3 linked regions of the Homo sapiens genome follow. The protein of the gene in region 2 purifies or fractionates together with the protein of the main gene of each other region. This does not show direct contact. Each region holds a gene or a part of one and is shown on either strand. Other genes may lie near its edges. The genes, in order: GNAZ, CCNL2 and IREB2.

The links.
Region 1: the proteins of CCNL2 (region 2) and GNAZ purify together in Homo sapiens (affinity purification with mass spectrometry; 2 studies listed by BioGRID and IntAct, with this or other methods). This does not show direct contact.
Region 3: the proteins of CCNL2 (region 2) and IREB2 purify together in Homo sapiens (affinity purification with mass spectrometry; 3 studies listed by BioGRID and IntAct, with this or other methods). This does not show direct contact.

What each region holds. Positions count from the first base shown.
Region 1 is NC_000022.11:23,094,519-23,098,018, reverse strand, and holds part of GNAZ (guanine nucleotide-binding protein G(z) subunit alpha), read right to left. Parts: intron 2,773-3,500; 5' UTR 2,324-2,772; coding exon 1,601-2,323; intron 1-1,600. UniProt on the Homo sapiens protein: Guanine nucleotide-binding proteins (G proteins) are involved as modulators or transducers in various transmembrane signaling systems.
Region 2 is NC_000001.11:1,389,187-1,392,910, reverse strand, and holds part of CCNL2 (cyclin-L2), read left to right. Parts: intron 1-106; exon of another isoform or gene 107-107; coding exon of another isoform or gene 108-129; exon of another isoform or gene 130-1,321; coding exon of another isoform or gene 1,322-1,614; exon of another isoform or gene 1,615-2,045; coding exon 2,046-2,145; intron 2,146-2,347; coding exon 2,348-2,452; intron 2,453-2,539; coding exon 2,540-2,681; intron 2,682-3,724. UniProt on the Homo sapiens protein: Involved in pre-mRNA splicing. May induce cell death, possibly by acting on the transcription and RNA processing of apoptosis-related factors.
Region 3 is NC_000015.10:78,490,044-78,493,767, reverse strand, and holds part of IREB2 (iron-responsive element-binding protein 2), read right to left. Parts: intron 3,347-3,724; coding exon 3,242-3,346; intron 3,150-3,241; coding exon 3,007-3,149; intron 1-3,006. UniProt on the Homo sapiens protein: RNA-binding protein that binds to iron-responsive elements (IRES), which are stem-loop structures found in the 5'-UTR of ferritin, and delta aminolevulinic acid synthase mRNAs, and in the 3'-UTR of transferrin receptor mRNA.

The sequences.
Region 1 (3,500 bases), on a different chromosome or scaffold from region 2:
CTCCATGAAAAACTGGACTGACTCAGGACCCAGGTATCCTGCCTCCTGTGTCCAGCACACCTGTGGGCACGGCCTGTCAAAGGATGCAACTGGGAGCCAGGCCTGGTGCCCGGGGAATTTGCCACGCCTGCCACTGTGGTGATGGGTGAGGCCAGTGGCGCAAGCCCGTGTGACTGGCAGACCCACCATGGCACTGTCCCAAGGGTCTGGCCTGAGCACCTCACTTTGCCTTGCAGCTTCTCAGCCCCAAGCGCTCTGCCCACGGCCATGCCTCATCAAGGGAGCCTGACCTCACTCATCTGCTGAGATGTCCCCTCTGCCCAGAACCACACATGGGGCTGAACTTGTGGCAACCACAGGGTAAGGGGCCAGAACCCTGGAGAGCACACAGATACACACTGGGAACAGGGTGGACGCAGCCGCCTGCGTACACACCTGCCTGCCCGTCCGTCATTCGTTTCCCCCAGGCACACCATCAACACCTAGGCACAGTTCCAGGGAGACCCCTGATGCGAGGAGGGGAGGGAGGCAAGCCCGCCTCCCCAGCTGCCTGAGGAAAGCCAAAGATCCTCTCTCTCAGAACACTCAGGCTCCTAGCACCATGGCCACTGCCTAGAGCTGTCCAGGTTCCCTGGCTGGGGCACAGGTCCAAAGCTAGAACCATTGTTGCTCTCCGCTGAACCTAAAGAATAAAGCTTGCCTTAGGACTGGGTGAAGCAAGGAGTGACCTCGGAGGCCAGTGCTCCCAAGTGGAGAGGCTGAGCCCTTGTCTCCCAGCATCACCCTCCCCTAGCCCCAGGGTACCCACAACTTCGTGACTCCTTGTTTGCCCCCACTCCCCCATCCCCAGGGTCAAAGGCCTCTCTCTTAAGGGCAGACTTGAAATCTGTGCTCAGGGAATCCTGCTGGGCAAGACAGCCCCTCCCTTGCCTGCCACGGCCTCCACCGCTGCCACTCCTGGCTGTGGCCCCCTTCGTGTGCTAGACCTTCTGTCCTGGCTGGGCCTCAGCACACTGCCCTGCTGCTTCACCCGGCTCCCCACCCTCTCCAGCAACTCCACTCTCAAGCCCCCACCGCTTCACACTGGGTCCAGGTCTCCCTCGGGCTGCGCCCATGCCACTGTGAAAGAATCCCAACACCTGCTTTTACGTCGTCCCCTTTCCACCAGGACCTGGGATTATCCCTTCTAAACAGCTCTTAACCCCATCTCTGCCAGATTTGCAGACTCAAGATGGGGTTGCAGGGGTGGCTGCTGTTCCTGGACCTATATGCTGGTAGGAGACTGGTGCTGGCAGGAGCTTCATGGATTTGCCAAACTATCACATGGATTGATCATGGATGCCCGGCGGAGCCTCACACTCTCTTGCCCTGTGGCCTCCACACCCTGAGTACTTCAGGCATGGGACATGACACCTGCACTCCACACCCTGTTCCCTCTGCCCCCACCTTGCTGGAGCTGCCTCAGTTATCGTGCAGCAGGGCCAGGCCTGCGCCTGGTTCCCTTTCTGGCTGCAGACTGTCCTGGACCTCACGAGTCCTCTTGCTTCCAGGAACCCACGACAGCAGGAACAAGCAGAGGAAAACCCCCGGCCCCACTTACTGTCTGGTTATCCTCGTAGAGTTTCAGGTCGTAGCCGCTGAGCTCCACACAGAAGATGATGGCTGTGACGCCCTCGAAGCAGTGGATCCACTTTTTGCGCTCTGACCTCTGCCCCCCCACGTCCACCATCTTGAAGGTGAGCTCCTTGAAGGTGAACTTGTTCTCCACAATGCCCGTGGTCATGTCCCGGGAGCGCAGGATGTCCTCGACAGTGGGGATATAGTCAGCTGCGGCGATGCGCTCCAGGTCGTTCAGGTAGTAGGCCGCGTTGTCCTCCAGGTGGTACTCGCTGGAGCGGCTGAAGCAGGCCTGTGCCCCTGGGTCGGCCCAGAGCCGTCGCATGACACCCAGCAGCTCGGGTGTGATCTCGCCCTTGCTCTCAGCGGGGCCCGTCAGCGCAAAGAGCTGCACAGCGTCGTAGGCGCGGTCGGGGTTGTGGAAGTCGATCCTGAGGGCGGCCAGGGCCCGGATGATGCGGGTCAGCGAGTCGATGGCATTGTAGATGATGAGGGGCTTGTACTCCTTGCAGGCCTCCAGGTTGAAGCCGCCGCTGTGGATGATCTTCATCTGTTTGACGATGGTGCTCTTGCCTGAGTTGCTGGTGCCCAGCAGGAGCAGCTTGATTTCGCGGCGTTGCCGCTGGCTCTCTGAGCGCAGGTGGCGGTCAATTCTCCGGGACCGCCGGGCTGCTTCTTTTTCCTCTGAGCTTTGCCGACATCCCATGGTCTGGCAGCAGCGGGCCCAGACAAGGAGCACGGGATGGGGCACCTCTCCCTCTTGCCACAGGGGACACTGAGACCAGGCAGACAAGAGCCCAGCTGCCCTGGAGGCACTCAGTGCCAGCAGGGGGGTGAGGCCGAGCCACACTGCAGCCCCTGCCCCAGCGCCTCTTCTCCAGCCGGCATGGCGCTCTGTGCAGCGGGCGGTGGCCGCCCCTCCCCACTAGTGACACTCCACCTCCCTAGTTGGCAAAGTGGCCTGATTTGCCGTAGTCATTCCCTGTCCTCGGCGACGGTGGGAAGCCGTCCGCTTGTGTTTGCCTCGGCTGCTGCCGTCTGGTTGCTGGTTGCTGTGGCGATGTTGCTGAGTGGCTGGAGGGTTGGAGGGCCGGTCGCTGGTGTGCTCCCTGCAGCCCCCCGCCTCCGGCTCCCACTGTGCATCCAGCCCTTCACCTGCCAAACACAGAGAAAAGCGTGAGCCTCCTCCCCGCAGCCCCACCTCAGGCTGGACAGTGAAAGGGAGCTCTTCTGAAAGCAAAGCAGCAGAGACTGGCCTTGGAAAATGAGCCGGCAACAATCCATCCAACCCCCTCTCCTCCATGGGGCGCTGTAGGGCCCACACCATGGTGTAACACATATGTCTGCTGTTGCCTGGACAGTCCACCTGAAGCCAGGTGCATGAGGGAGAGGAGGGTGTGTGCGAGGCCTCTGCCCACCCAGCCCCCATGCTGGACTCACTTCTACCGCATCCAGTTAGGATTCAATAAGGTCACCCTGTTGTGATGCCCCCTGGGGCCCTTCTCCCAGACAGCACTGATAGAGCTCAGCCTTGCCCTGTTTTACACGGGTGGCCAGGCCTCGGCCCAGCCCTGGGATAACTGAGCGCCTCCCTGACTCTCATTACCCCCGCAGGAGCTGGGTCACTTCTGATCACAGGGAGGAAAAGCACCAGGAGGGAGACCTGGCCCCTGCTTTCCCTTGAGGGCACTCTGATGGGCCAGCCCAGGAGCCAGCAGATAGGCAGGGACCAGAGCAAGGTGGAGGCTTCAGGCTGTGGGAGCACCGTGAGGTGCCTAAGCACAGTGGGCAGGGGCTGCCTCACTCCTGCAGAAGGAGGTAGAGGGGGGCTTGGGCTGAGACCAAGGAGCTGGGGGCTGCACGTGGTGCTGCGGGGAAATCCA
Region 2 (3,724 bases):
TTAAGTCTGTAAGGGTCATATTTTTGCTGACTGAATTGTCTGGTGCTATGACATGTTTAATAGAGAACCTATTTTGACTTTTCTTTTCTGTACTCTTTCAATCAAAGGGTAGCCTCTGAGGGTAAGTGACTAAGACTTCTCCTCTGCTGTCCAAGCGCTTTGGTGCAGGGACAGCGGCATCTTCAGCCAATCCAGTGCAGGCTCTCCACCGAAGGCTGGCTCTAGACTGGTGGTACGCACATAGCATAGCCATGGCCGACTCCTGCTGTGGTTCTCTGACGATTGTGCTTCTTGTTAATCCTCTGTCGTGCTTTGGTAATCGTATTGATTAGAGTTGGTAACTGTCTTGACTTGAATTTTGTCCCTTTAAAACTGCTGTACCTGTATGATAAAGATGCAGTACCTTTCTCTTAAAAAAAAATGCTATGGAAAGCTGTGAGAATTGAAGAGACAAATTGGCTGTGTCAGTGTGGGGTTATGTCATGATTTCTAGAAGCCCTGAAGTTGCTCTTTTGAGCAGCTTTGCATGACACGCTCTGGTAAAAGGTGTGCATCTTTAAATTATTTCATGGATACTTTGAAAAATATTGTATCACTTCAAATACAGCAATAAGTTTATATGTTCTCAAGATTTCATTTGTTTTTAAGAATTTTAAGTTCGTGGATTAATATCACTACTTGAATACTGACAGTTGTTGATTAGACACCGAAAGGTTACTGATTGTTGAATGTATCTGTGTTAGAGCTGTGCACTGGCACGCTTGCATCAGGGGCTGGGGCCACACGGCCGCCACACAGATTCCCCCGTGATGCCTGGAGCTGCTTCCAGAGCCGGGTGTCTCCAAGAGGCACCTGTAGGACTTCCCATTTAGAAATCTCTTGAGTGGGTTTGTATGTTACCTTCTCCAAGGTTTATTTAGGACAGAGATATTGCTGGAAGGTCATGGGTCAGATTCCCTCACAACCCACCTCGTCTGCGGGTGCAGCCCCACTCCAAGGCTCCCCGTTATTGGGGTATGTGAGGAGCAGTAAATATAAAACCAGTTCAACTGTCCTCATGGAATCACCCTTTCTGTTTTTGCAGTATTCATAAAGCTAGTGTAAGGTCTGGTTTTAGTCTATTAAATCTTAGAGATCTAAAGGAAATGCTCAAAATGTAGCCAGGTTTTAAATGCTTTAACTTTTAAAAAATGTAAATTTTTGTATGTTTATAGCTTCTAAATATGAAAGTTAAAGAATGTACTGTGATGAAATGTTCAGTATTATGTTGCTTCTCAGTATCATGTTGCTTCTCAGTATTGTGTTGCTTCTGATTCTATGAATGTTCATTTTAAGACCCCTTGTTGAAATGGGACAGTTGGCAGCGGCTCTGATGAGCCCGAGAAGAGGCCTGCCCTTGGGTGCGGAGTCTCCCTCCGCACGATGCTCCCACGCGTCCAACTTGCACCCAAGGGGCTTTTCCCTCTTCCAAGTGGACTCCTTCAAGGAAGCTGCAGCTCGGTCAGCAGAGAAGGGGCCTGCCGCCAGCGCCCTGGAGGAAGAGGAAGAGGAACCCAAGAGGATGGCTTGTCTCCCAGCAGCCACACCGGCTTTGTGCTCAGCCAGTTCATTTGAGTTTGCATGTTTCTCTGCACTATGGATTTTGAGCATTTAGATTTCTTTAATCAAAAGCGTTTTAGTGACTCCAGTAGACATTTTCTTTCTGAGGCATCGTGCTTTGCATGAGAGCAGGCCAAGGTTGAGGGGAAAAGTAAAGTTAAAGTCGGTTCTCTTTCATAGCAACACGTATTGTCTGACATTCAGCCAGCTTTTTTTTTTTCTAATAATTTCTGTGCCTTTCTGTCCTGTATTTACTGTATTTAGAAAAAGCAGCTAGAATATTTCTCCATTAACTCTTGAGATTCACAGGACTGTCTAGCTCTGAGTCCTAGCAATAGACTCCTTAGAGGAGTAGTACGTTTATCTAGATTTTCTCTAGATAATGCAGGCGGAAGACCTGGGTTCCCGGGTGGGGCATTGCAGTTCTTCCTGTGTTTGGCTTCCAGGAATTACATGAACGACAGCCTTCGCACCGACGTCTTCGTGCGGTTCCAGCCAGAGAGCATCGCCTGTGCCTGCATTTATCTTGCTGCCCGGACGCTGGAGGTCAGTGTGTTGCTACTATGGAGAGATTCTAGTCTGATTTTTTTTTCTCCAGCCTCCAGTAAACTTTACTGTGTTATTCTTCAAATTACTCTAATCTGGGCCAAAGCATTTTCGTGACCAACAGGCTGTTTTTTAATTGTCCTGAGTCTTGCTGGCCGTGAAGTTGAGGAAAGTGTAATGATGATAGTGTTTGTTTTTACAGATCCCTTTGCCCAATCGTCCCCATTGGTTTCTTTTGTTTGGAGCAACTGAAGAAGAAATTCAGGAAATCTGCTTAAAGATCTTGCAGCTTTATGCTCGGAAAAAGGTTCTTCGGCATTTTTTCATGTAACGTATGCGTTTGTGTTTGGCCAGAAACACCTGGTTCTGAACGGACACCTTCTGGCTTTTGCAGGTTGATCTCACACACCTGGAGGGTGAAGTGGAAAAAAGAAAGCACGCTATCGAAGAGGCAAAGGCCCAAGCCCGGGGCCTGTTGCCTGGGGGCACACAGGTGCTGGATGGTACCTCGGGGTTCTCTCCTGCCCCCAAGCTGGGTGAGTCTGTTAGAGTGCAGGAATCCACTCCCCACAAAGGCAAAGACTGGTGACTCTCCCCCGCCTCCATTCTGGGGTATGTGCTCCTTCCAGACATTTTTTTTTTTTTTTTTTTTGAGACAGGGTCTCTGTCACCCAGGCTGGAGTATGGTGGTGTGATCGCAGCTCACTGCAGCTTCCAACTCCTGGATTCAAGTGATCCTCCCACCTCAGCTTTCTGCATAGCTAGGACTACAGGCACATGCCACCATGCTTGGCTAATTCTTTTTGTTTGAGACAGAGTCTTGCTCCAGCCCAGGCTGGAGTGCAGTGGCGCAATTTCCTCTCACTGCAAGCTCCGCCTCCTGAGTTCACACCATTCTCCTGCCTCAGCCTCCTGAGTAGCTGGGACTGCAGGTGGCCGCCACCACGCCTGGCTAATTTTTTGAATTTTTAGTAGAGACGGGGTTTCACCAGGTTAGCCAGGATGGTCTCGATCTCCTGACCTCGTGATCTGCCCACCTCAGCCTCCCAAAGTGCTGGGATTACAGGCGTGAGCCACCGTGCCCAGCTGTGCTTAGCTAATTCTTTATCTTTTTAGTTGAGTCTGGGTCTTGCTATGTTGGCCGGGCTGCTCTTGAATTTCCTGGCCTCAAGTGATTGTCCTGCCTCAGCGTCCCAGAGTGCTAGGAGCATAGGCACCTGGCCTTTCTGTTGATTAGCAGGGAGTATGACAGGTTGTCTGAAATGCTTTTGTTTATCCTGCTGCCCAGGTAGCTTGTCATCTGATGAAGGTGTTATAGTGTGGGGCCATAGATGATACACGTCATCAGACCTAGAGTTCAGTGTGATGCAAAGGGCCTGTCTGCAGTTCTTTTTTTTGAGATGGAGTCTCGCTCTGTCGTCCAGGCTGGAGTGCAGTGGTGCGATCTCAGCTCATTGCAAGCTCCACCTCCCGGGTTCATGCCATTCTCCTGCCTCAGCCTCCTGAGTAGCTGGGACTACAGGTGGCCGCCACCACGCCTGGCTAATTTTTTGTATTTTTAGTAGATATGGTGTTTCAC
Region 3 (3,724 bases), on a different chromosome or scaffold from region 2:
CCTATCACCAAGCTATAACTTAACAGATGCTCCGTTTCTTCTACAGTCAACCCCATTAGATTATTTTGAAGCAAAACTGAGATAATTTTAACAGCATACTTTTCAGTACATTTCACTAAAAGATGTAGACTCTTAAAAAAAAATCTTTACACCAAAAAAAAAAAATCACAATAATTTCTTAACATCAGATAGTCAATATTGTCACTGATTATTTCCAAACTAAGTTGGTTTGTTCAAATCAGGATCCAAATGCAGTTCATAAATGTGTTCAGTTGATCTCAAGTGTTTTAATCTACAGTTGACCTTTAAACATGAATTTGAGTTGTGTGGGTCCACTTATACATCGATTTTTTTTCAACCAAACACTGACAGAAAATATATTATTCACAGGATGCAGAAAACTGCAAATACGACTTTTCATATATGTGGCTTCTGCAAGGCTGACTGTAGGAATTCAGTATGTGTGGATTTGGGTATACATGGGTGGTCCTGGAACCAGTCCCACATCTATACTGAAGAATGACAGTATATGTTCCCTCTCCTTCCTCCTGCTTGTGCTCTATCTGATGCAATAAAGTTACTTGTATAGTTTTCTGTACCCACATTGTGTTGACTGCATCTCCATGAATCATTTAACATGTTCTTCTGCCTTCTGTTCTTGTAAATCACATGTCAGATCCAGTGGTTTGATAAGATTTGGGTTTTTAATTTTTGGCAACAATGCTTCATAGGTCATATGTACTTCTATTAGGAGGCACAAGATAGCCAACTGTCTTTTCCTGGAATGTTACCAGTGATTGCTCATTGTGGTCTAGATTGCTTATTAGAGACCGTAAAATAGTGATACTATAATTCACCCATTCCTTCTTCATTTTTTAGGTACAAAAGTTCTATAAAGAAAAACTTTCCAGCAGGTATGTTGGCTCTTGCCTGCAATACCAGCACTCTGGGAGGCCAAAGTGGGAGGAATGCTCGAGCCCATGTGTTGGAGACCAGCCTGTGCAACAAAGGGAGATCTCATCTCTACAAAAAATTAAAAATTATCCAGGCATGACGGTGCGAGCCTGTAGTCCCAAGCTACTCAGGAGGGTGAGACAGGAGGAGTGCTTGAGCCCACGAGTTCCAAGCAGCAGAGGGCCAAGTGCCACTGCCTTTCAGCCCAGGCAAGAGTGAGACCCTGTCTCTAAAAACAAACAAACAAACAAATGACAAACTTTCCTTCATCAATGATTTGGTTATGCTGAAATACATTCCATACATGAAAGGCTGGTTAAAGAATTGATTATTTACCAGTTTTCAAGCTAATGAGCTGGTCCTGACCCTGAGACCTTTAGACAGAAGCCTGATGGTCTGTGACCATCAGGTAATCTTTGTAATTTTATTTTTGGTAATCTTGGTAATTTTTGGTAAAATTGTGTACATTTTCCAGTCCCAGATCTGGAATCAATAATTTCTCCATGAAGCACTGGTTCACTATAGTGGGAAACAGTATTTAGAAATCATAATCTGGGTGCGGGGGGTATTGCTACTGGATTAGTGACCATATATAACTTTTTAGGGAAAAATAACTGAACATAAGTATCTCAACAATCAACAACTGACTTTTATCAGCCTCTGATTTGGTCTTTTATGCAGAGGCAACAATATTCTAAATTTGTGCATTTAAATTTTTACTTCAGGATGGGAGTGGTAGGAGGTTTGAGTGTCTTTATTTTTAGAAAATTCTAATTGATGAGCACTACTGGATTAAATGTGCTAAGAAATACATATCAGGAGGCATAATAATTACAAAAATTGTACATTTGAGAGAAGTGTTGACTGTTTTTCTTTTTTGGAGGTATGTCACAATTATGATGAAGATGGAAATCACAACCAAAAAAATATTTACAGGAAAGGAAACTTATTTCTCACCACTTTATAATAAAAGCTGTGCAATATTATCACATGTCAACACAAGCTACATTGACATTTTGGCTGGGCACGGTTGCTCATGCCTGTAATCCCAGCAATTTGGGGGGCCGAGGTGGGCGGATCACTTGGTCAGGAGTTTGATACCAGCCTGACCAACATGGTGAAACCCTGTCTCTACTAAAAATATAAAAACTTGCTGGGCATGGTGGCGCGTGCCTGTAATCCCAGCTAGTTGGGAGGCTGAGGTAGGAGAATTGCTTGAACCCGGGATGCAGAGGTGGCAGTGAGCTGAGATCACACCACTGCACTCCAGCCTGGGTGACAGAGTGAGTCTGTCTCAAAAATAAATACATAAATAAATACATACATAAATAAATAAATTTCAATGAAAAAGCTTGTCATTTTAATTACTCAAGCATCAAACAAGCATCCAATAAGCTAATCAGGTAGCAGTACTACAAATCCTGCTTTTAACAAAACTTTGTCTCTATTGTCAAAACAGTCCTTTGATAACAGGGCAACTCTACATGATTAATCATGTAGAAATGAAATCTTACCAGTTTTAAATTTATATCTCCAATATAAATGGCCTTTACGTTTATTGTTCCTATAAAATTTTAGGCTCATGAAGCAGAAATTCATTGTCTTTTGATTTGTACATATCATTCCCAGCCTCACACACGTACATGTTATAGCCCATAAAATACACATTTAAATTCCTTACTCCAATAATGGGAAGCTGGTTTTAACCAAATGAGCAGGCTTCATTTGGTAGGTAAAACCAAGCTGACTTTTCAATAAAGTAGCACTGAAAAAGAAAAATCTTATTTCCAATCAGCTGTTTATTTAGACTATAAGGGCTCAATTTAAAATTGCAATTTCATTTTCTAAAGTCACAAGCAAAGACAAGTACAGAAGGTACCCCCCGCCTCCCCACCCCGCCACTCTCCATTCTTGCTTAAGACAAACACATTGGCAGTCAGATTACCTACGATAGCATGTATTTACTGGAAAAAAGGAACAAGACCAATAGAAGCCTCTTAATCAGTAAGAAACAAGAAAAAACAAAAACACTCTAAAGCCATGTACACATACCCTCTGTTTGTCAAATACTTAGCGGCAGCACTATTCCTAGCGATACTTCCTGCAGGTGATATATGATCTGTTGTGACAGAGTCTCCCAAATATAATAAGACATGGGCATTTTCAATAGCCTGGAGTGCAATTGGCTCTTTGGTCTAGAAGGTAAAAGTTCAAGGCATTTAACTCTTTACAAGACTTCTTAGTTTATAACAATCTTTAAAAGATCAAATAGTAAAACAGTACTTACAAGTTTATCAAAAAATGAAGGGCATCTGATATAAGTAGACTTTAAGTCCCATGGAAACAAAACTGAATCCGGTGCTTCTAAGGAATTCCACCGTTTATTCCCCATCTGTGAATACAGTTTTCGTTGATGAACCAAAGCAAAGATAAAAGGACTCAGAAAAAGAGGCGCATGAAAATGATCAAGGGAATAAAATAGTACTTAGGTCACAACAACAACAACAAAAATAGGCCTTATCCATTTGGAAAGAAAATTAAGAGTGTATTCTTTTCTTTTTTTTAAAAAATTTTAAATTTTTATTTTTGCCCAGGCTGGTCTTAAACTCCTGAGCTCAAGCGATACGTGGGCCTTGGCCTCCCTGAGGGTTGGGATTATAGGCATTAGCCACCATGCCCAGCCAAAACAGTGTGTTCTAAAAAATCATGATGTTTTTGGACAGAATGATTAAAAATTTGCTCCTCAAATTCTAGCATACCAGATGTTCAG